4 linked regions of the Homo sapiens genome follow. The protein of the gene in region 4 purifies or fractionates together with the protein of the main gene of each other region. This does not show direct contact. Each region holds a gene or a part of one and is shown on either strand. Other genes may lie near its edges. The genes, in order: NUDT21, CLTB, CLTA and EIF3CL.

Region 1 (2,850 bases), about 28 Mb from region 4:
ATATATTCCCGTATTTTGGGTAAACTTTCTATTTAAGATAACATTGAATTACACAGTATTACATATGCAGCAGGTATGGTGTGTGTCATAGAACATTATGAATTCCAGGCAAGTTTGAGAAAAAAAACTAAAGGAGTCAACCCTCCCTTTACAGATGAGGAAACTCGGACTCAGTCCCCAATGATATGGACTACACACAGTTAACACAACTGTGTAGCAACTTCTAACTTGTGGCCTTCATGTTCCAAATCTAGTGACCCTTTCACACCTCAGGAAACTGAAACACTGCTAACACACAATGGGAGGAGGGAGTGTGTGGGGCACAAGGAGAGGGCAACATCAGTGACCCAGGCCATCAGGCCCTTGCTATTATGCTAAGCTGTCTCTTACCTAAAGGCCCTCGGCCACTCACAGTGACGAACCATGCAAGATTTCTACTAGCACAGTAGGATCAGCAGCCACACATACAGGACTACTATCCCAAAACAATCACAGAGTCATTCTCTTTCAAATATTTTTTATTGAAATGACAATAAAATAAAAAAAGAACAGTGATCACTTTAACCAAACTTACTTTACAAATATAAAAATATAACCAAAACTTGTTTCTTTTATACATTTGCCATAAACGTAATACCAGAAAAGTTCTCAAAACCAAACTATAAATGATGCTTGAATACTATGATGTGAACACAATAACCAAAAGTTTAAATTTCTAAATACATGACCTTTCCCTCAACAGAACAGCATAATCAATATATCTTCCCAACTTATCTCTATTTTTACGATATGATCCATTACTAAGATACAAAATACACCTGAACTGGCCTAATCTAGAGTTACCTAGGTTTTAGTAAGTTTTTTTCCACAAAAACAAGCTTAATAACTATAATACAAGCTAATATTAAAATGTGTTTTATGGCTCAAATCAAATTACAGTATTAGGTTTCTCATCACGATTTGAACAAAAGCAAACTGCTTGAAATGAGTCCAGTTTAACCCAAATAATCAGTGATGTATAACAAGTGAAGTAAGTATGGGAAAATCAAATCTTATGCTACAGAAAGCTGACTTATACTACAGTCAACAACCACTAAGCCTTCTTTGGCAATGAAACATACAAAATTGCAAACTCTGATGCAGTCTCAGTGATTGGCATATACTGTTCCAAACACTATGAACTAGTAAAAACATTAAGTTTGAGGATGGAAAAGCTACCCCAAGCATTTCATCTCAAGTGACTGAACAAGTACTGTAAAAATAAAGTCATTAAAAAGCCGAGAACATAAGAGCACAACATTTAAGAAAGGGAATTTTAAGCCGATTGCTTGCTGGCCTGTTGAATTTGAAGTACTTCTACCTCTCACTTCTAATTAAACATGGAAGAAAACAGACTGGCTAATTTGGTCACACTTTGTCCAAATACAGTGTTAACTTAATGGAACCCTTAAATATCCAAAATAATAAGTGAATGCTATTTATAAGACAATAAAAAGTTTTAAAATCTTCCAAATGTGCTGTTAACAGTACAAATTCAAGTGCAGAATTATTACGCCATTTTAAGTATTATCTACTTTTTTAAAAAATCACAGTGGTCTTCATCACATGGCGAAAAAACAAACTTCACTCTTCTCCAAAGGGATAAGTCCATCCTAAATGTAACTACAAACAATTGTATAAACCTTTATAGTTTTTCCCCCTAATCTACTAAACATATTCCAGTGTCATTTAGTAGTTTTACATAGAATCTGCACTATACTTGGATACTCAGGGAAAATAAGATGACATATATTGTAGTTTTAGAACGCAAAAGAGCTTTCATTTTAGACAAATATACAACATAGAAGCCACTAAAAAATATGGGTCTATTAATCAAGAGCCCATTTCAAAATGATAAGAGCATTTAGTATGTAGATCTGGAATGCACAGTTTCTGGAAGTATTAGAACTTAGTGTTAAACAGTGCCCTTATACCCTCTTCTAATACTGTAGACACCTACCAACCAGATTTGATTTCCCCTAATTCTATTATTTCCATCAGAAAACCAAAAACAGATTATTGGGGATCCACCTGTAACTGACCAGAGCAAAAAGTTTTTAAGACTTCCGTTTGTGTGTTGCAACTTTTACATTCAAAACCAGATCTCTTACATTTCAAGGTTAGTAACCCAGCCATCCTGAATCAAAGGTTTTTCTCAACTAGGCCTTAGTGTATGGATGACTGGCTCACGTACTTACTGTATATTGGGAAGAAGTGAAGAAGTGAGAAGTGAAGAATTTCTTGGTCAAAGTTTAAGTTACAAAGAACATGAGTGGCCTCGAATCAGATGACTCTTCAACTCAAACACTCCTTACTGAGAGTACTTTATAAAACACACAACAAAAGTCTACCTCTCTCCACCCTCCACAAATTGCAAAAGTGAACATCTGAAATGTGGCCACTGTAGCTTTTCCCTCAAAAGCAATCATGGAAGGTGAGCTGAATCAATCCATCTTCATATCCACTTCCTCCAATCTAAAGGAATAGCTGAAGGACGCAGCTAATGGATGAGCTTACCAGCAAAATACATTACATGAGAAATATGCTAATGTAGGCTAGAGGGGTAGGACTGTTAGGGGCAGGAGGGAAAAGGACAATTCACAGAACTAGTGGCTTTTTCAAAGGAAACTGGGGCATTTTTGATCATGGAGACTGGTGCTCACCTACCATGAAGGACATGCACAGTTAGTCACTACTTAACCACCATGTGAGGGTTTGACATGACCCCAACTAAAAAAACTTGAGTGTTTATTAATTGCTCAGCTACACTTGGCCTGATTTCCTCAAGTATCATATACCTTTGACATCACC
Region 2 (6,444 bases), on a different chromosome or scaffold from region 4:
TCAGAGGAGAGGCACAGGTAAGTGCATGTTTTACAGACTGTCAGCCCTGGCAATTGGTTTGAAAGAGGGATGGGAGAGGCTGGAGTCAAGGGGGCCTGTGAATGGGCAAAAGCCATGCAGTCGTTGTCTTTCTTTCATGCATGTATTTACTTGTTTATTCAACAAATAATTATTGAGCACCTGCAAAGTCACAGGTGCATGCAAGTCTCTGGGAAAGACACAGGAGAAGAGAAAGAGACACAGTTATGTCTTCCCAGGTGTTTGCCCCTAGCGGGCAAAGCAGTTGTGCAGGTGCAAGGTGGTGAGGTCCTGGGCTGGGGCTGAGCTGCGGGAGAGAGTGGAGGGCAACTGTGAATGTCAGTGTTGTAGCAGAAGCCCCAGGAATTTGTGACTAATCAAATGTCAAGGAAAGGGACAGGGAGGAGTCACTGCTGAGGGCAAACTTAATTCCTTCTGGGAGGGGCACAAAGAGAAAAAATATGCCAGGTGCTTCTGGTGGGAACTGCAACTCCTGCTCACCCAGGAGGAGCAGTTGCTCAAGGCGCCTCAGGGACAGGCAGAGACGCGTAGGCCCCTCTCTTCCTTATCCAGTGTAGCCCCTGCCCTGAGCTTACAGCAGCTCAGCCTACTCACCAGGCACAGGCTTCACAGGTAATCTGGCCATTCCCAGCCATGGCCAGGGGTCAGTGATTTCAGGTAGGTAAGGAGCTATTACTGGCTGGGTGATTTTGAGCATGGCCTCTCTGAGCCTCAGCTTGAGTATCTGTAAAATGGGTTGACAACAATTTCATTGCAGGGCTGTGGTGAACATAAAATGTACTAATGGCTGTGAGAGGCTTTATAAACAGTCAGGGGTGGGATTGAGCCTAAGTTATATATATATCCATTATGTCTGTTTGCATGTGGGTCGATATATACATGGGTATACACAGAGTTTGGGTTGAGGGGCTAATGTAGGACCATTTCCTGCTTGCTATAAGCTAAACAGTGAGTAATGCTATCTCCTTGTTCTCTTTCCAGCTGGTTCTGAGGACATGGGGACCACAGTCAATGGAGATGTGTTTCAGGTAAGCAAGGCTCTGTCTCAGCAGTGGTAAGGACCAACAGCCCTGGTCTCAGTAACCTAAAGCCTCATTGTTGTAGGCTTACAGCTCCAGGTTCTCCTGTTCATTATGTCTGATGCATTGGGGTGGAAACATAGAGAAAGGTTTTTGGAATTTTTTTTGTCATGTAGAGGGCAGGGAAGAAGAATAAGGACCACTAGAGATCGAGATTGATGGGCAGTAGCCTCAGGTTGCCCATGGTGATGTCTGGTTTTGGGAGGGAGAGGTCAAGTGGCCCACAGCAGCATGAGATGAAGGCAGCGCAAGGCCTTCCCTCACCACTGACGGGAGGCAGAACCCAGGCCATCTCCACACACAGGGCGGGCCCTTTGATCCAGAGATTCCACTTCCAGAATTTTCCCAAAGGAAATAATTGGACAAGGCCACCCAGATTCTTTGCAGGGTTATTTATAATGGCAGACAATTTGGAGACAACCTAAGTGTCCAGCATCAGGGAACTGAATAGATAGATTAGAAAACCAGGCTGTTGTTAAAAAGGGCAATCAGGGCCGGGTGCAGTGGCTGACGCCTGTAATCCCAGCACTTTGGGAGGCTGAGGTGGGTGGATCACGTGAGGTCAGAGTTCAAGACCAGCCTGGCCAACATAGTGAAACCCCGTCTTTACTAAAAATACAGAAAATTAGCCAGTCATTGTGGCAGGTGCCTGTAATTCCAGCTACTCGGGAGGCTAAGGCAGGAGAATCACTTGAACCCAGAAGGTGGAGGTTGCAGTGAGCTGAGATTGTGCCATTGCTCTCCAGCCTGGGAGATGAGAGTGAAACTCTGTCTGAAAAAAAAAAAAAAAAAAAAAAAAGGGCAATCAGATCTTCCTGTATTGACGTGAAAAGATGTCCACAATATATTAAGTGGAAAAAGCAGCTTGCAGAATAATATACACAGTATGGTCCTTTTTTTTTTTTTTTTTTTCAATTTTAAAAATATGTTTGGGCTGGGCGTGGTGGCTCATGCCTGTAACCCTAGCACTTTGGGAGGCCAAGGCAGGTGGATCATGAGGTTGGAAGATTGAGACCATCCTGGCTAACACGGTGAAACCGCACCTCTACTAAAAATACAAAATTAGCTGGGTGTGGTGGCACAAGCCTATAATCCTAACTACTTGGGAGGCTGAGGCAGGAGAATAGCTTGAATCCGGGAGTGGGAGGTTGCGGTGAGCCGAGATCACGCCACTGCACTCCAGCCTGGGCAACAAGAGCAAAACTCTATCTCAAAAAAATAAAACTAAAGGTTTGCACTACATATCTGAAAGGATGTGTACCAGCTGTTAACAATGGTTAGCCCCAAGGGTGGGGTGGGATGGGGATAAGAAAGGGGCATTCACTTTCACTGGGTTGTTTACAAATTCTTTAAGTGTTTTTATCCTGCAAAAAACGAGGAAAACCCAGCCGGGCACGGCGGCTTACGCCTGTAATCCCAGATTTTGGGAGGCCAAAGTGAGAAGATCATGTGAATCCAGGAGTTTGAGACCAAACTGGGCAACATAGTAAGACCCCATTTCTGCAAAAAATGAAAAATTAGCTGGGGCAATAGTGTGTGCCTATAGTCCCAGCTACTCAGTAGTCTTAGGTGGGAGGATTACAGCTTGAGCTGGGGAGGTCCAGGCTGCAGTGACTATGATTACACTACTACACTTAGCCTGGGTGAGTCTTTTTTTTTTTTTTTTCCTGAGATGGAGTTTTGCTCTTATTGCCCAGGCTGGAGTGCAATGGCACGATCTCGGCTCCCTGCAGCCTCCGCCTCCTGAGTTCAAGTGATTCTCCTGCCTCAGCCTCCTGAGTAGCTGGGATTACAGGCACCCGCCACCACGCCTAGCTAATCTTTTGTATTTTTAGTAGAGATGGTGTTTCATCATGTTGGCCAGGCTGGTCTCGAACTCCTGACCTTCAAGTGATCCACCCACCTCGGCCTCCCAAAGTGCTGGGATTACAGGCACGAGCCACCGTGCCCGGCATGACAGTCTTAAAAAAAAAAAAAAGAGGAAAACCCTAGTAAGTGTATTTCTAGTTAAGACTGCTTCTGTCCGCACCCACCTAACTCTCTTCCCCTTGCATACACACAAATCCATTTTAGTACTCTGAGGGAACTCAGACCACAGAGGCATGCAATAGTCCTCACCTCGGCCCCCCAGCCAGATGCCTGGTGGGGCTAAACCTCCCCTCAGAGCCTTCATTCCCACTCAGACTGGGCCAAAGAGCCTTGATCCTGGGGTCTTTGGCTGTGGGATCTTCTGAGCCCCGCCCTGGAGGAGCTGGCTTCTTGAATCCTCTGGGGGAGTAAACAATACTTATTTTCTTATGTAAGAGGGATGGGCTGGTACCTTATGCAGGGAGACTGGCCAAGTCCTGTTTCTGGAAAATTACTCAACTATCAGCAAGCTGGAAAAGTCCATCTCTAGGACTTCAGCAGCTTCATGTCTAGTTGGGCCCGAGGGAGTCAAAGAATGAGGATTTGCTTCTGTGCAGCTTGGTAGATCATTAAGACTTAGGCTGCCCAGGCTCTCTGGCCACATTCAGAAGGACTTTGCTTGACCCCACAGTTCTGTGTCCTAAAGTGCACCTGGAGCTGGAGATATGCTTGGAACCACAGAAGTATGTAGAACATGGCCGGGCACAGTGGCTCACGCCTGTAATCCCAGCAGTGGGAGGCTGAGGTGGGTAGATCATTTGAGGTCAGGAGTTCAAGACCAGCCTGGCCAACATGGAGAAACCCTGTCTCTACTAAAAATACAAAAATTGGCTAGGCAGGGTAGTGGTTGCCTGTAATCCCAGCTACTCAGGAGGCTGAGGCAGGAGAACTGCTTGAACCCAGAGGCAGAGGTTGCAGTGAGCTGAGATCGCACACTGCACTCCAGCCTGGACGACAGAGCGAGACTTTGTCTCAAAAAAGAAAGTACCTAGAACACTCTGAGCTGGATCATTTACCTTTCCTAAAGATTAGCATCACGAAGCTCAGAGAGGTGAAGTGGTGAATGCAAAGTCACCCAGGAAATCAGCCACTTCTGGAGTGCACCCCATTTGACTTGGCCCCCCGCCTTCTCCCTCCCGACCTGTCAGCCGTGGGTGAGCTGTGGGTGAATCTGAGGAGCCCGGGGCCTCCTTTCCAATCTGAGTGAGAACTCTTATTCTCACTGTTACTAAGAATCACAGCAGGTGTGTTTATTTGTAAATCATATCACATCAGTGCCATCCGAGAATCCTTACAGGCAGGGCAGGGTCACAGATGAGCTGAATCACTCAGAAGCTTAGTGGCAAAGCCCCAGCTTGCCTACATCTCCTGGGCTCCGACCCGGTGTGCTTTGCATTACGACTCTGTTGCTGGAACTGGCTGGCCACAGCGCCTGGGTCACAGGTGGAAAGCCCCAGCTCTTTAGGATTGAGCATAGCAGGTCTGGCCTGCACCTGCAGGGGGAGGAGAAACCTTGGCCTGTGCACACCCAACACTTTCAAGGATCCCAGACAGAGCTTTTGTGCTTCCTTTCTTCCTCTTTTCTGCAGCCCGTGCACCACCAGCGGGTCCAGCTACAAACCCAGTTGCCAATACAGCCTAAGGACGAGCCTGCCCACAACTATTCCAGTTCCATTTGGCACAGCCAGGGGCAGGGACAGAAGGGCCCTGCAGGACTCCGCCTCCCCACCTCTGCACAGATCCTCTCTCCTTTCCCCTAATACTCCCATCATCCTCCTTTTAGCTTCTTAGAGGAATCAGCAGCTCAGCTTAGCTTAGATTTAGCTGATCAATCCCAAAGAAGGATGTGGCTCATCCTCTTGGCCATCCCTGGAGTCGCAGCACACGCTTGGCTGGTGTGGGTCCACAGAGGTTCTCATGGGTGGGCCCAGCAGAGGGGCCCCTCAGGAGAGGGATTCTAGGGAGCTAGACTGAGACAAGCCTGGCCCTGACTGTCGCCTCCTGCCTTCTGGTCCTGGCCATTCCTGCCCCTTTCTCTCTCCAGAGCTTGGGAGGAGTCAGAACATTGCTCTAGCCGCTGGTGATCTCTCCTGGTTGCCAACCCTCCTGGCCATGACTGATCTCCCCACTGAGATGCTCAGGTGATTAAACGAGAGCCCAGTTGTGGCCCGTGACACTGTCACTGGCAAGGGTAGGGGTGGGGACAGGGGCAGGAAAATAAGTTCTGAGCAGCCCGGAAATAATGAGTGGTGACTGCTTCTCGGGGCTTTGCCTGCCAGCAGCACCACTGTGCTCTCCTGGTCATGGTGCACGGAGGGCCAGCAGGTGTGGGGCCCTGCCACACCGGAACAGCAGGCCACAGCAGCCATGCTGTCCCTCATACGCACACGCCCTCTATGGGCTGCAGAGTGTTACCATAGCATCTCGTAAGCCTCACTTCCCACCGGTAGTAGGATATTGTCACTCATTTAACAGGTTTGAAAGCCAAGCTGCCCAGGGAAGGGACTTCTCAAAGGTCGCGAGTCCAGTGAGTGGCAGAAGGGGGATGTAAAGCCCAGCCCCTCTGATGGAGTGTCCAGCGCTCGTCCCGTGCCCTCCACGCCCCTGTGTACCCAGCTACTTGTTTATTCATTTGGTTTATACGTTTGGTCGTTCATTCATTTGGTCAGTGCACATTCTTTTATGGCCACACACCTGCTAGGGCAGTGAATAAACGGATATGGAGGCAAATCCACTGGATAGTTTGTCTCCAAAGAGCTCTCTTTTTTTTCTTTTTCTTTTTCTTTTTCTTTTTTTTTTTTTTTTTTTGAGAGACAGGGTCTTGCTCTGTAGTTGAGACTGGAGTGCAGTGGTGTGATCATGGCTCACTGCAGCCTTGAGTCTTGGGCTTAAGTGATCCTCCTGCCTCAGCCTCCTGAATAGCTGGGACTACAGGGAGGGCCACCATGCCTGGCTAATTTTTTAATTTTTTTATGGAGATGTGGTCTCGCTATATTGGCCAGGCTGGTCTCGAGCTCCTGGGCTCAAGCAGTCCTCCTGCTCAGCCTCCCAAAGTGCTGGGATTACAGGTGTGAGCCGCTGCACCTGGTCCCAAACTCGCTTCTAATAGAAGACAGGGAAAGAAGTGAAAGAAGTGAATGGGAGCCCAGGAAGGTGAGGGCTTGGCTTTGGGGAAGCATTAGGAGCTAACAGATTGAGTTCTTCTCTGTGTAGGCACCAGCCAAGGGCTTTACGTGCTTGATCTCCCTGAGTCCTCCCAACTCCCTGTGATGTTGGTTGTCATTATTCCTGTTTTATACAGGAGGTTTAACAGCTCGCTCGAGTTGTGTAGCTAGTAAGAGGTAAAACTTGAATCCAGGATCAGGCGCCAGAGCCTGCACTAAAGTTAGGGAATGCAACTGTGAGGGGACACTGGCAG
Region 3 (6,444 bases), on a different chromosome or scaffold from region 4:
GAAAAACTAAAGCTCAGAAAGTTTGAGTGAATTTCCTAAAGGTTATAGTAAGTGACAGAGCCAAGATTCAAACCCAGATCTGGCTGTAAAGCTTACACTTTGCTTACCTCATTATGCTTCCTCCAAAGGGAGGGACAGAAAGGGAGGCAAGCCTAGAAATAATCACAAAACGTGACCACCAGTGATCTGGACAGAGTTTTGAAAGTGCAGACCAAGAGCCCAAACTGTAATTAGTGTCTTTGAGAAGGAGAGTAGATAGCAGTAGCGGTGTCAAGTAACTACTAGAAGGGATGAAAAATGAAGTATTCTTGGGCATTTTTAGGGCCTTTGCAAGAAAGGTCTTATAGTAACAACCTGCAAAAGGCTGTGTGTAACTATAAGAAAAAGCCTAATAGCAGCTAGAAACTCCCCCAAGTTTCAGGTTAGTAGGAACGTTCATCTCGGTATCTAATTTGTCGGAAGGTGATCTGTCGTTCAGAAGAATCATTTTCTCAGATTTTTCACTGATGACTCTAAAGTATATACAGTAAACTTTTTTTTGTTTTATTTGAGATAGGGTCTCGCTCTGTAGCCCAGGCTGTACTGCAGTAGTTCTATCACAGCTCACTGCAGCCTCAATCTCCCAGGCTCAAGTGATCCTCCCACCTCAATCTCCTAAGCAGCTGGGACCACAAGCGTGCACCACAACCCCCAGCTAATTTTTTTTTTTTAGTAGAGATAGGGTCTCACTATGGTGCCCAGGCTGGTCTTGAACTCCTGAGCTCAAGTGATCCTCCCACCTCAGCCTCCTAAAGTGCTGGGATTACAGACCTGAGCCACACCACCTAGCCTCTACAGTAAACATCTAATATGTGTCTATCCATGGCATGAAGTACAGATGTGGAATGCAAGATTTAGCTATGCTGCAATGAGAAGCTGTGGGCTGGAAGTGCCATGTGACAATACCTAATTCAAAATGTAAGGCCCCCTTTTCAATCATGGTGAAATTACTTCCAAATAATTACCTTTTTGATTGGACAGTATTTTCTTTCAATGTATTTTGATGTTAACATTTACTATACATTAGGACTAAAATATAAAATTTATCTCTGAAAAATGAAATTAAATAAAAATGGTGACCTCCTGAACAGACTGTGGTTACTGCATAAAATAGTACATTTAAATTGGTCTTCTGGCTTTTGCAGCTTTAGTGCCACTGCAATACTAATTTAGAATTCTTCCCCTCAGAGGATGAAGAGGAAGAGTCCCCTTAGAGAGCAAAGCACATTCACAGGTGCCTTCCCTTCTGGCCACCCTCGTTACTGGTCAGAGAAAAGAAAATTACTTGAGAATGTAGCCAGCAGCTAGGCTGAAAACCACTGGCACCGGTTCTCTATTTTTAGCATCGCGTGCTTTCTCACAGTTTTTGCAAGGAAAAAAGGTGAAATTGAAGGAACACCTTGTTCATGAACCAAGTGAATTCAATTCAGTTGGAATGCAAGGCCAAATGTTGTACTTCTCTCAAAAAAAGCACTTTGAATTAAGAAAACAGCTCATAAGAGTATTCCCCAAGTACCCAATTTCATAATTGAAAAATTAAATCTTTCCAGACACCAAAGTAGACTCTCTCCATGGAGAAGAAAAACTGCTAGAGCTTGGTAAAACAGAAAAGATAAATTTGGGTTCTGTAACATGAAAAATACTACAGCAGTACTAAGACCAGCTAAATCTTGCCTCTAAGCATACTCAAGAGACACAAAGAACAAGCAAGGACCAAAGCTGTTAGGACCTATTTTCATCTTCCTACAGCTCCACTGTCCAATATGGTAGCTACTAGCTACATGTGGCTACTTCAATGTAAATTTATTAAAATTAAAGAAAATTTAAAATTCAGTTTCTCAGTCACACTTGAATTGTGAAGCCACACTTCAAGTACTTAACAGTTACATGTGGTTAGTGGCTACCATACGAGACAGCACAGATACAGAATATTTCCACCAAAGAAATCACTAATGAATGGTGCTATAAAGGTTCAAATACTAAGTGCATTCTTTGTTCTGAAAGCCACCTAAATTGGACTAGAGAGATAAATGATTTGGCACTAATTGGCTGTGTCATCTGGGTCATGTCCCTTCCTATTTCTGGGTGTCAGTTATCCCATCTGAAAAATAAGGACTCATGTTTTCACTAGTTCAACAGTTCCCAAGAGGGAATAATACTGCTGACGTTGTGGTTACATAGGAGAATGTCATTATTTCTAGGAGGTGTACATTGAAATATTTAGACACAAAGTATATGATGTCTTTATCTTAAAGTAGGTCAGCCAAAACAATTTGTGTGTGTGTATGTCTAAAACATATCATTTATATAAAGATAATCCATTAATTACTGAATCTGGGGGTGCACATGTTTATTTTCCTCCTTTCAATTGTTCTGTAAAGTTGAGAAAAGATGAATCTTAAAGTCAGCTGATTAAAAAAAGAAAAAGAAAAAACAAAGAAAAGGCCACAATGTGGATTATATCCTCACACTCTGCATACTTCTCCAATCCACCATGTACAGACACAAGTCTCCCCTGATCATGAACCAACAGGTGACACTCCACGTACACATCTCTTTATCAAAGGCCAGGCTGTGTGGCTAGATGGCCACGCACATTAAATGTTTAGAAAGCAATGTGGCTGATGGGGATGGGTAGTGACTTTGAAGCAAGGCAGACTTCAGCTGAAATTGTGACTCTTACCATTCCTTAGCTGAGTATTCCAAATACTTATTCTACCTCTCCTCCACTTTTCTTACCTGTAAAATTGTAAAACTTACCTTACAGAGATATTAAGGTAGGAAAAACAAATTGTACATTTTTTCCTAACATACCTCATTTTCCTCGTGTTACTTTAAATTCATTTAGCCTTCAAATAAAAAATGGAGGCCGGGCGCGGTGGCTCACGCCTGTAATCCCAGCATTTTAGGAGGCCAAGGTGTGTGGATCACAAGGTCAGGAGATCGAGACCAACCTGGCTAACACGGTGAAACCCTGTCTCTACTAAAAATACAAAAAAAAAATGAGCGGGACGTAGTGGCGGGCGCCTGTAGACCCAGCTACTCAGGAGGCTGAGGGCAGGAGAATGGTGTGAACCCGGGAGGCAGAGCTTGCAATGAGCCGAGATCGCACCACTGCACTCCACCCTGGGTAACAGAGTGAGACTTCATCTCAAAAAAAAAAAAAGAAAAAAGAAAAAAGAAAAATGGACTGTTAAAGTCCACGGACATAGGAAACTTGAATCCTTCAAGTTTATAAAGCACTCTATAAACACCACCTGAGGCTACTCTTGAGGTCAGGAGCAGCATCACTATGCTCTTCCTGTGAGAGGATCTTGGGGATCTCCGGCTACCCTACTCCTCACACAATGGCCTGTGATTAGGCATCTCTGTGCAGGTAGCCTTGTAACCTTCAGGCTGAGAAGATATCTTCCCAAAGACCAGACAATGACACTGGTTAATGTGAGCTAAAAAGGAATAAAAGTAGAGTCCAGCTCAACTACTCCACTGAAAACAGACACCAAAACACAGAAGGGATTCCTTACCAAGGGCTTCCAAGCGTTCCATTTGTTCTTCTCTCCATTTACGGATACTTTCAGGCTCTGACTGCAATCGATCCACTTGTGAAATAGCTGCATAACTGTCTGTTGGACCATTACTTTCCTTAACACAAAACACAATTGTGCTATATTAATACCAAAAATTCCTTCCTAAAATGCACTTCACCTGAGTTAGAACCCCTGGTTCTGTTTTTTTTTTTTTTTTTTGAGACAGAGTTTTCACTCTTGTCGCCAAGGCTGGAGTGCAGTGGCACGATCTCGGCTCACTGCAACCTCCACCTCCCGGGTTCAAGCAATTCTCCTGCCTCAGCCTCCCGAGTAGCTGAGATTACAGGTGCCTGCGCCTGGCCTATGTGGTTGCTTTTTTTTTTTTTTTTTTCTGGGGTGGGGGAAGGGGGGACGGGACAGGGTCTTACTCTGTCACCCAGACTGGAGTGCAGTGGCGCAATCTTGGCCAACTGCAACCTCTACTCCCCGGGTTCAAGCAAATTCTCCTCTTGCCTCAGCCTCCCCAGTAGCTGGGATTACAGGCACATGCCACTACCGCCTGGTTAATTTTTGTATTTTTAGCAGAGACGGGTTTCACTGTGTTGGCCAGGCTGGTCTCGAACTCTTGACCTCAAATGATCCACCCACCCCAGCCTCCCAAAGTGCTGGAATTACAGGCGTGAGCCACCGTGCCCGGCCTGTGTTGTTGCTTTTAAGGTAATCCTTTAACATTTTACAAAAGCCGCCATTGTTGTTAGAAACGGGTTCTGCAGTGAGCCAAGGTTGCGGTGGCTCTGGCGGGGTGCGGTGGCTCACGCCTGTAATCCCAGCACTTTGGGAGGCCAAGGCGGGATGGTCACTTGAGCCCAGGAGTTCAAGACCTGCCTGGCCAACATGGCGAAACCCCATCTCTACTAAAAATACAAAAAATTAGCCGGGCGTGGTGGCATGCGCCTGTAATTCCAGCTACTCAGGAGGCTGAAGTGGATGAATCGCTTGAACCCAGAAGGTGGAGGTTGCAATGAGACAAGATCGTGCCACTGCACTCTAGCCTGGGCGACAGTGAGACTGTCTCAAAAAAAAAAAAAAAAAAAAAGACTCAAATAAATGTTAATCTTTACAAAATTATTCCATATGCCACTCACTGAACTAAGGAATATTAATATTACCAGGTTAACCTAATCAGACTATAAACAAAGATGGAAGGAGAATTATTTAAAGTATTAGTATTAACTTACTGCACTCAACACAGTATCATTTGAATGGTGATTTCTTTAGAATAAAGGTGATAACACTAGGGGCAGGTAAATAACATTTTTAAACAGTTCTCTTTTTATCAATGCTACCTCTCTTTAAATCTTTCCACTTTGGTAGATAACACACCAGCCAGTAATACATTCAGGAAAGTCAAAGGACTGGGGTTTCTTTCTAGGTCAGTCAATTAAAATCACAGGAAAGGAAGATTCTCAATCACTATCAATGAACAGAATCAGAGTACTCTGTACCTGGTAGTATTCACCATTCATTACTCCATCAACAGCATCTGCAAGACATAAGATTTTGGTCTATCAATAAGGACTGGTCAAACACTGGGCCAAAGGGTTGTACAGTAGAATACAGCATCATATGCTGTATGAACCTTGAGCTACTAAATGCTATCCCTGTGGTAGGTGCTATATACAACAAATAAAACCAAGATGTGCTTATATACAAATTTCACCAAAATGTGTACACATCTGTCCTTAAGCTCCCAAGTCCAAAAGCTTTTGATTTTATTTTCTGTTTTCTATTTTACAGTGGTAACAAATGGAAGACTAGCAGAAAGAGAACAGTGTTTCTCTATGAAAATTCTGCATGAGGGAAAAAAAAAAGTGTGGCCTGGAATCACCCATAGTGAGCAGAGACCTGCAGCTTCATCTTTGAGACAGTCTTGCTCTGTCGCCCAGGCTGGAGCAAAGTGGCCCAATCATGGCTTACTGTAGCCTCGACCTTTTGGGCTCAAGCGAACCTCCCACCTCAGTCCCCACAGGAGCTGGGATTGCAGGCATGCGCCACCACGCCTGGATAATTTTTCTATTTTTTTGTAGGAAGGGGGTTTCGCCATGCTGCCCAGGCTGCTATCGATTTCCTGGACTCAAGCGATCCACCCGCCTCGGTCTCCCAAAGTATTGGATTACAGGCATGAGCCACCATGCCTGGCCTCTCATATTTTTCTTAATTTTCCTAGTTGACTTTTACTCCTATATGTCAGTACAAAAATGAGTTTCTTATAGTTTGTCAGTGGCCTTTTACCACTTTAAGGCATGTGCCACCTACCTATGTAGTTTTTTAAGCACTCTATAAAGTTTTGGAAATATGAAGTTTATCAAACTAGTGAAAGCATGGGGGAAGCATATTCAATTTCGCCTCTGTAATAAATTTCTTGGTGTAGAATTGCTGGGTTACAGCTGGGCGCGGTGGCTCACACCTATAATCCCAGCACTTTGAGAGGCCAAGGTGGGAGGATCACTCGAGGTCAGGAGTTCAAGACCTGCCTGGCCAACATGGTGAAACCCACCTCCATATACTAAAAATACAAAAATTAGCCAGGGTGGTGGCATGAGCCTGTAATCCCAGCTACTCAGGAGGCTGAAAGAGGAGAATTGCTTGAACTCGGGAGGCAGAGGTTGCAGTGAGCCAAGATCGCGCCACTGCACTCCAGCCTGGGTGACGGAGCGAGACTCCATCTCAAAAAATAAAAAAAAAAAAAAAGAAAAAAGAAAGAAAAAAAAGGAATTGCTGGATCACAGGATATGTATTTTATTTTTTTTTGAGAGAGAGTCTTGCTCTGTTGCCCAGGCTAGAGTACAGTGGTGCAATCTTGGCTCACTGCAACCTC
Region 4 (7,034 bases):
CTAATGTACTTGACTCTCTGATCCTACTGTAAAATGCTAACAGTTGGCTGCTCCAACCTAAAAGGACTCCATGGAAGAATCAATAACCTTCCAGACAATTAAGAGCTTTCCACCAGTTCCAGTGTAACCCTAGGTCCCACTACTTTCCTTACTTTTTAAGAAATCTTGAGGCCAGCGCGGTTTGTTTCCCTTCTTCCTCCTCTGAGTCGGAATCGGAAGATGTGGAACCTGTGTCCCAGTCTTCATCATCTTCGGAATCTTCTGAGTCCTCATCTTCATCCTTAGAGGGAAGAAAAGAGGATCAGCAAGAAGACAGGGAGATTGACTGGTGTCTCCTCCTTACTAACGCATGTTCGAGATTTATTTACATGAGTAGAACAAGAGCAGCTACTCATGGAATCAAGATACCAAGGGCTGGGACTCACCATCAAGTCCCAGAGTGATGCTGCAATTTGGCCGCAGGAACACACACAGCTTCCCCTGGCAGAGCTGGGCCCAGATCCCTGTTTGCCCACTGCTCTGATGTAAGAGGAAGCTTGTTCTCAACTCCACTAAATTCCACCCCTCCCAACCCTAGGGGTTTGAGTCTTGTCTTTTTCCCCCAGGGACTCAGGAACTACCTCTGGCAGGAAATCATCCATCTAACCCTGGCTCTTACATCCATCTTTTTGAGGAACTTGCGACTCTCCCCAGAAGGAGCTTCTGATTTCTTCTTCAAGAAAGTTGCAGCACTGACTCCGTCCTCATCCTCATCCTCATCTGAAGAGCCTAGTGGTAATGGAGGGAGAAAAAGATCCTGAATGTTGAAAAGCCAGACTGGAGGGCAGCCAAGAAACCAGGCGAAGGGCAACACTAACTCTGGACTTCCTATTTGCAACAAAGGTTCTTTGGCTCACCTTCTGAATCCTCCTCATTTTTCTCAGCATCTTCATCCGCAGACTGCTCGGGGTTCTGGACAGAGAGGGAAGTGAGAGAACAATCATGGACGCTGTCCAGCCATCAGCCCACCCCACCCCTCCACCCCAGACAGTTCTGTCATCTTCCTGCTCCAGTCACACCTCCCACTAGCAATTCCATCTTTGGGCCTCAGTCACGGGGTCACTGTTCCCAGTTCAGTAAGTGTGCCTCTAGCCTCCCCACCTGCTTGTAGCTTGTGATATGGGACTCGAAATCACGGTTGTATTTTCGGATCTTCTGACGCAAGGTGCTCAGAGCCTTGGCATTGTTCTTGTTCATCTTCTTCTTCCCTTCCTTATCTTCCCAAAGCTAAAGGGAAGAAGAGGAAAGAAACAGAGAACAGTGATTTGAAACTAAGTAACATTTCCTAAACTCCAGGCTTCTTCTCCACTTTTGAGTCTTGCTATTGGAACACCACTGGTACTACTTATTAACTACATCTGTTAGCTTATTTTTAAAAGATCCTATACATCCCACCACTAAAAGTACAAAACCATGAATAAGTGGTGGTAATAAATATAGGCATCACACCTCATTAAGATAGTCCTCTAGGTCAGCCAGGATGCGGATATAGAACCGGGGGACACCTTCTTTGTCCACAATGCTTTTGGCCTTCCCATATGCTTTTCCCAGGAGCTCAAACTCTTCCAGGCACTTGGTGACATCACGAATCTTCATGGCATTACGGATGGTCCGGATAAGGTTGGTCAGCTCCTCAAACCTGGGTTGGGAGCCCGATACCACATTGAACGTGCCCACCGAGGGAAAACTCACCACTGCTCCCAGAGACTCCTATCACCCAGCCTCCCCACAGCTTCATTGCTCCCAGAGACTCCCATCACCCAGCCTCGCCATGGCTTTACCTCTTGTCCTTGGCACTGCGGACAACTCTCTTGGTATCTTCTTCATCCTCGCTCAGCAACAATGGCCTGTTTGGAAGGAACAGAGGCCATTAACCTCCTTTCCCAGTCTTTCCAAGAGATCCGTATTTCCCTACTCAGGACAGGTAGAACTAAGTAATCCAGGCCATCCACACCACACCCATCCTCTTTTTGACTCCTCCTCAGGGCCACTTCATATACAACTCAATCTTTTAAGTGTACACTAAGTAAGGCCTTTTGCTCAGTGTTGTAGCAACACAAAGATGACATTCACTATCCTCTCAAAAACAAATGAAAGTGCTAATTTACTGTGTAACTAATGACATAGAGACACAAGTCACCACAGAAGTAATGAATAAAAAAAGAGGTAGAGAAAAATGATACTTGAGCTATAATGAACAGAAAAGGCTTTAGGGAGGTGGTACCTAAACTAGATCTTAGCAACATTTCCCAAAGTATGAGAGGCCAACAGCAAGGAGAAAGTCTCAATGGTATTAACACCTCCACTGCTAGTATTTTTCTACGATAATAAGACCAGACCACAGGCTCACAGTCAGCAACAGTATCTCTACTCTTTTTGTTTGTTAAGAGATAAGGTCTCACTATGTTGCCCAGGCAGCCTCCAACTCCTGAGTTTCAAGGGATCCTCCCACCTCAGCCTCCAGAGTAGTTGGGACTACAGGCATGCACCATCTTGCCTGCCTCTTTTCCCTTTTTATTATTTTTTGGATTATTTTAGCGGTGTTTTTTGAGGTGGAGTTTTGCTTTTATCGCCCAGGCTGCAGTGCAATGGCGCAATCTCGGCTCACTACAACCTCCGCCTCCAAGGTTCAAGAGATTCTCCTGCCTCAGCCTCCTAAGTTGCTGGGGTTACAGGCATGTGCCACCACAACCGGCTAATTTTTGTATTTTTAGTAGAGACGGGGTTTCACCTTATTGGCCATGCTGGTCTCAAACTCCTGACCTCAAGTAATCAGCCTCCCAAAGTGCTGGGATTACCGGCTTGAGCCACCTGCCCAGCCTGGATTATTTGGTATTTTATGGCAAATGACACTGGTTTCCACCTGTGGAAGTGATACGAAACCATATGCATATTGGCATATACATGTGCAATACATACTTTTAAAACAGTAGCACAAACGTGGCAGATGTTTAAGAAACACCATTCCAGTGGGGCACAGTGGCTCATTCCTGTAACCCCAACACTTTAGAATGCTGGGCGGGAGGTTCACTTGAGCCCAGGAGTTCAGAACCAGTCTAAGCAACACAGTGAGACACCTTCTCTACAAAAAATTAAAAACAATTAGCCTGCTGCGATGGCGTGCACCTGTAGTCCCATCTACTTGAGAGGCTGAGGTGGGAGGATCGCTTGAGATCTGAAGGTCGAGGCAGCAGTGAGCTATGACCCCTCAAAAAAAGAAAAAAAAAAGGAAAAAGAAAAACCATTCTATTGTTCCAAAGGGTAAAAAAAAAAAAATTAATGTACAGAAATGGCGGATGGGTATTTACGTAGAGGTGAACAGGCATATAAAATGTTTAAGCACCTGCGTACACAGCAGGTGACCAGACTTCAGAGTCGCATCAGGGGGCTCCCAGATACCAATCAAGCATTTTGCATTTCCTTCTGTGAGCAGTGAGAAGTCACTAAGGACTTCTCGGCGGTAAAATGAGAGGAGACAGGTAGAGGCTGTAGACTTAAGGCCAGTTAAGAAGCTGATGCAACAGATCTGGCTTGGGAAACCTCTGTGATTCTATCCCTTGTGCCTGGTGGGTGGCTACCGGCTATCACAGCCCTCTAAGGCTGTCTCTCTCCAACACCGCTCCGATCCTGCAAACTCTGGTCATTGTCCAAACCCACTCTCCCCGCCCTCACCTCCATCCCCTCCCATGTGCACTGCGTTCCACAGCCTGCCTAACCCCGCACTCCCAGAATGGTCACAGCCACAGCCCCCGCAACTCACTGTTTGCCATAGTTGCCTCCGACAGGTTTGGTGACGAGCTCCTCCCCGGACAAGGACGACTCGGACTCGCTGTCCGAACCGGTGGTGAAAAACCGCGACATGGCGACGGCGCGGAGGTGCTACGGCCGGACCTGCGGGGGAGCCAAGGCGTCACCGGCCACGCGAAGAGGCCCGAGCCAACACCTCCCGACGCCCAACCCCTCACCGGCCCCACCCGGACCTCGACCTGGGTCTCCCACCACGAAGCACGAGGCCCAAAAAATACCAACCAGCTGAGCCCGCGAGTCACACCGCAGGGCCCTGACAGCGGAAACGCCGAGAGAGAAGGCGGGTCCTCGCGTCACTTCCGGGAAGCGCCGACTAACTACACTGGGAGACTACAACTCCCAGTGGCCTTCGCGCCATAAGGGGGCGGGGACAAGCCTGAGGGAACCGGGCGCTGAGACCTTGGCTGCAGGCGTCGCGAATCCTACCGCGCGTTGGTGTCGGGATTTAAAACACGAAGATCGGCGGGGCGCAGTGGCTCACGCGTGTAATTACAGCATTAATAGGCATTAATAGTATAGAAGTAGATAATCCTGCCGGGTGCGGTGGCTCACTCACGCCTGTAATCCTAGCACTTTGGGAGACCGAGGCAGGCGGATTACCCGAGGTCGGGAGTTCGAGACCAGCCTGACCAATATGGAGAAACCCCATCTCTACTAAAAATACAAAATTAGCCAGGCGTGGTGGTGCATGCCTGTAAGCCAAGCTACTCGGGAGGCTGAGGCAGGAGAATCGCTTGAACCCGGGAGGCGGAGGTTGTGGTGAGCCGAGATCGAGCCACTGGACTCCAGCCTGGACAACAAAAGCGAAACTCCATCTCAAAAAAAAAAAAGTAGACAATGCTAGCCAGGCACAGTGGCTCACTCCTGTAATTCCAACACTCTGGGAGGCTGAGGTGGGTGGATCACCTGAGGTCAGGAGTTCGAGACCAGCCTGGCCAATATGGCAAAACCCCGTGTCTACTAAAAAATACGAAAATTAGCCTGGCACAGTGTCACCTGCCTGTAATCCCAGCTACGTGGGAGGCTGAGGCTGGAGAATCACTTGAACCCAGGAGGAAGAGATTGCAGTGAGCAGAGATCACACCACTGCATTCCAGCCTGGGTGACAGAGCAAGACTCTGTCTCAAAAAAAAAAAAAAAAAAAAAAAAAGTAGACGATGCTAGATCTTGCAGGTCTTTATAGGCCTGTGGTTTGGAGCCGCCATCGGCAGAGGTTTTAGTGCAAGGGACTGTGTTACATTTTTCAAGGTGGTTTTGATATGGGAGCGGGACAGGGAAGTGCTGGGAAGGGAAGAGCATGCTCTTCCAAAGTGCTGGGATTATAGGCATGAGCTACCACACCTGGCCGTTTTGTTTTTTATTGTGAAATATTTCAACAGACAAGAATAAAGACTATTCCAATGGACATCTATGTACTCACAACCCACCCAGCACCGTCAAAACTTAATATGAGGCTGGGCATGGTGGTTCATGCCTGTAATCCCAACACTTTGGGAGGCAGAGGTGGGCAGATCACTTGAGGTCAGGAATTCGAGACCAGCCTGGCCAACATGGTGAAACCCCATCTCTACTAAAAATACAAAAATTCGCCTGGCATAGTGGCAGATGCCTGTAATTCCAGCTACTCAGGAGGCTGAGGCAGGAGAATTGCTTGAACCCTGAAGGTGGAGGTTGCAGTGAGCCAAGATCGTGCCACTGCACTCCAGCCTGAGCGACAGAGCAAGACTCTGTCTCCAAAAAAAAAAAGTTAAAAAAAAAAACCAAGGGGTTCATTGTACGTCTGTAAATCCATAAATATCTTTTTTTTTTTTTTTTTTGAGATGGAGTTTTGCTCTTGTTGCCCAGGCTGGAGTGCAATGGTATGATCTTGGCTCACTTCAACCTCCGCCTCCCAGTTTCAAGCAATTCTCCTGCCTCAGCCTCCCAAGTAGCTGGGATTTACAGACGTGCACCACCACATCCAGCTAATTTTTGTATTTGTAATAGAGAAGGGGTTTCACCATGTTGTCCAAGCTGGTCTCGAACTCCTGACCTCAGGTGATCCACCCGCCTCGGCCTCCCAAAATGCTGGGATTACAGGCGTGAGCCACCACGCCCAGCTCTCTTTATTTTAAATAATATGTGTACATTTTTACAAAATGAAAATGGTACAACAGAATACACAGGAAGAAAAAATATACAGGAAAAAATGTTTCCTTCCTGCCCTGACCTCATGTTCATCAGCTTTTCTCTCTAGAAGCAAACACAATTGTCAGTTTATAGCGTTATCTTCCAGATGTCACTTTGTGCCCTCTCTCTCCGTATCTCTCTTTGTGTATACACACACACACACACACATACACACACACACACAGAGTTGACTCTTGAAGAATGTGTAGGTCTACGTATATGTGGATTTTATTCAATAAATACAGTCAATCCTCCATACAGGTGGGTTCCACATCTGGAACGAAATGTCAATCAAAAATAACAGTATTCACTGGATTTGAAACCCATGTATACCAAGGGCCCAAATTTTGTAACTACAGGTTCCACAGGGGCAACTGCGGGACTTGAGTATGTACAGGTTTTGGTATCTCCCAGGAATCCTAGAACCAATCCCTTGAGGATACCAAGAAATGACTAGATAGAGACAGAAAGGATATAGATAGATGTATTGTATGTGTGTATGTATATATATATGTGTGTGTGTATATATATATATTCAATATATGTATATGAATTATATAGATCAGGGTATGTGTGTGTGTGTGTGTGCGTCTACCTGGAACATATCTGTCTCTACCATTGTTTCCTGCATCTTATTTCATTATTCATCATATATCTTGCAGCTCATTCTGTATCAGTGCATATGGCTCTGTCTCATTCTCTTTTTTTTTGTTTGGTTTTTGAGACAGAGTCTTGCTCTGTCGCCTAGGCTGGACATAATCTTGGCTCACTGCAACCTCCGCCTCCTAGGTTCAAGCGATACTTCTGCCTCAGCCTCCTGAGTAGCTGGGATCACAGGTGCCTGCCACCACACCTAATTTTTGTACTTTTAGTAGAGATGAGATCTCACCATGTTGGCCAGGCTGGCCTTGAACTCCTGACCTCAAGTGGTCCGCCTGCCTTTGCTTCCCAAAGTGCTGGGATTAAAGGCATGAGCCACCACACCCAGCCTGATTGCCTTTTAAAAGTATTCATAATAG

Evidence for each region.
Region 1: the proteins of EIF3CL (region 4) and NUDT21 fractionate together in Homo sapiens (co-fractionation; one large-scale study listed by BioGRID). This does not show direct contact.
Region 2: the proteins of EIF3CL (region 4) and CLTB purify together in Homo sapiens (affinity purification with mass spectrometry, with the first as the bait; one large-scale study listed by BioGRID). This does not show direct contact.
Region 3: the proteins of EIF3CL (region 4) and CLTA purify together in Homo sapiens (affinity purification with mass spectrometry, with the first as the bait; one large-scale study listed by BioGRID). This does not show direct contact.

The regions. Positions count from the first base shown.
Region 1 is NC_000016.10:56,428,633-56,431,482, forward strand, and holds the end of NUDT21 (cleavage and polyadenylation specificity factor subunit 5), read right to left. Parts: 3' UTR 501-2,850; downstream 1-500. UniProt on the Homo sapiens protein: Component of the cleavage factor Im (CFIm) complex that functions as an activator of the pre-mRNA 3'-end cleavage and polyadenylation processing required for the maturation of pre-mRNA into functional mRNAs.
Region 2 is NC_000005.10:176,404,880-176,411,323, reverse strand, and holds part of CLTB (clathrin light chain B), read left to right. Parts: exon of another isoform or gene 1-17; intron 18-500; exon of another isoform or gene 501-696; intron 697-1,020; coding exon 1,021-1,067; intron 1,068-4,615; coding exon of another isoform or gene 4,616-4,786; exon of another isoform or gene 4,787-5,782; intron 5,783-6,444. UniProt on the Homo sapiens protein: Clathrin is the major protein of the polyhedral coat of coated pits and vesicles.
Region 3 is NC_000009.12:36,196,216-36,202,659, reverse strand, and holds part of CLTA (clathrin light chain A), read right to left. Parts: intron 5,110-6,444; coding exon 5,072-5,109; intron 3,682-5,071; coding exon 3,564-3,681; intron 1-3,563. UniProt on the Homo sapiens protein: Clathrin is the major protein of the polyhedral coat of coated pits and vesicles.
Region 4 is NC_000016.10:28,399,719-28,406,752, forward strand, and holds the start of EIF3CL (eukaryotic translation initiation factor 3 subunit C-like protein), read right to left. Parts: upstream 4,124-7,034; 5' UTR 4,069-4,123; exon of another isoform or gene 4,020-4,068; intron 3,931-4,019; 5' UTR 3,901-3,930; coding exon 3,800-3,900; intron 1,887-3,799; coding exon 1,821-1,886; intron 1,679-1,820; coding exon 1,489-1,678; intron 1,267-1,488; coding exon 1,141-1,266; intron 952-1,140; coding exon 897-951; intron 769-896; coding exon 659-768; intron 281-658; coding exon 153-280; intron 1-152. UniProt on the Homo sapiens protein: Component of the eukaryotic translation initiation factor 3 (eIF-3) complex, which is required for several steps in the initiation of protein synthesis.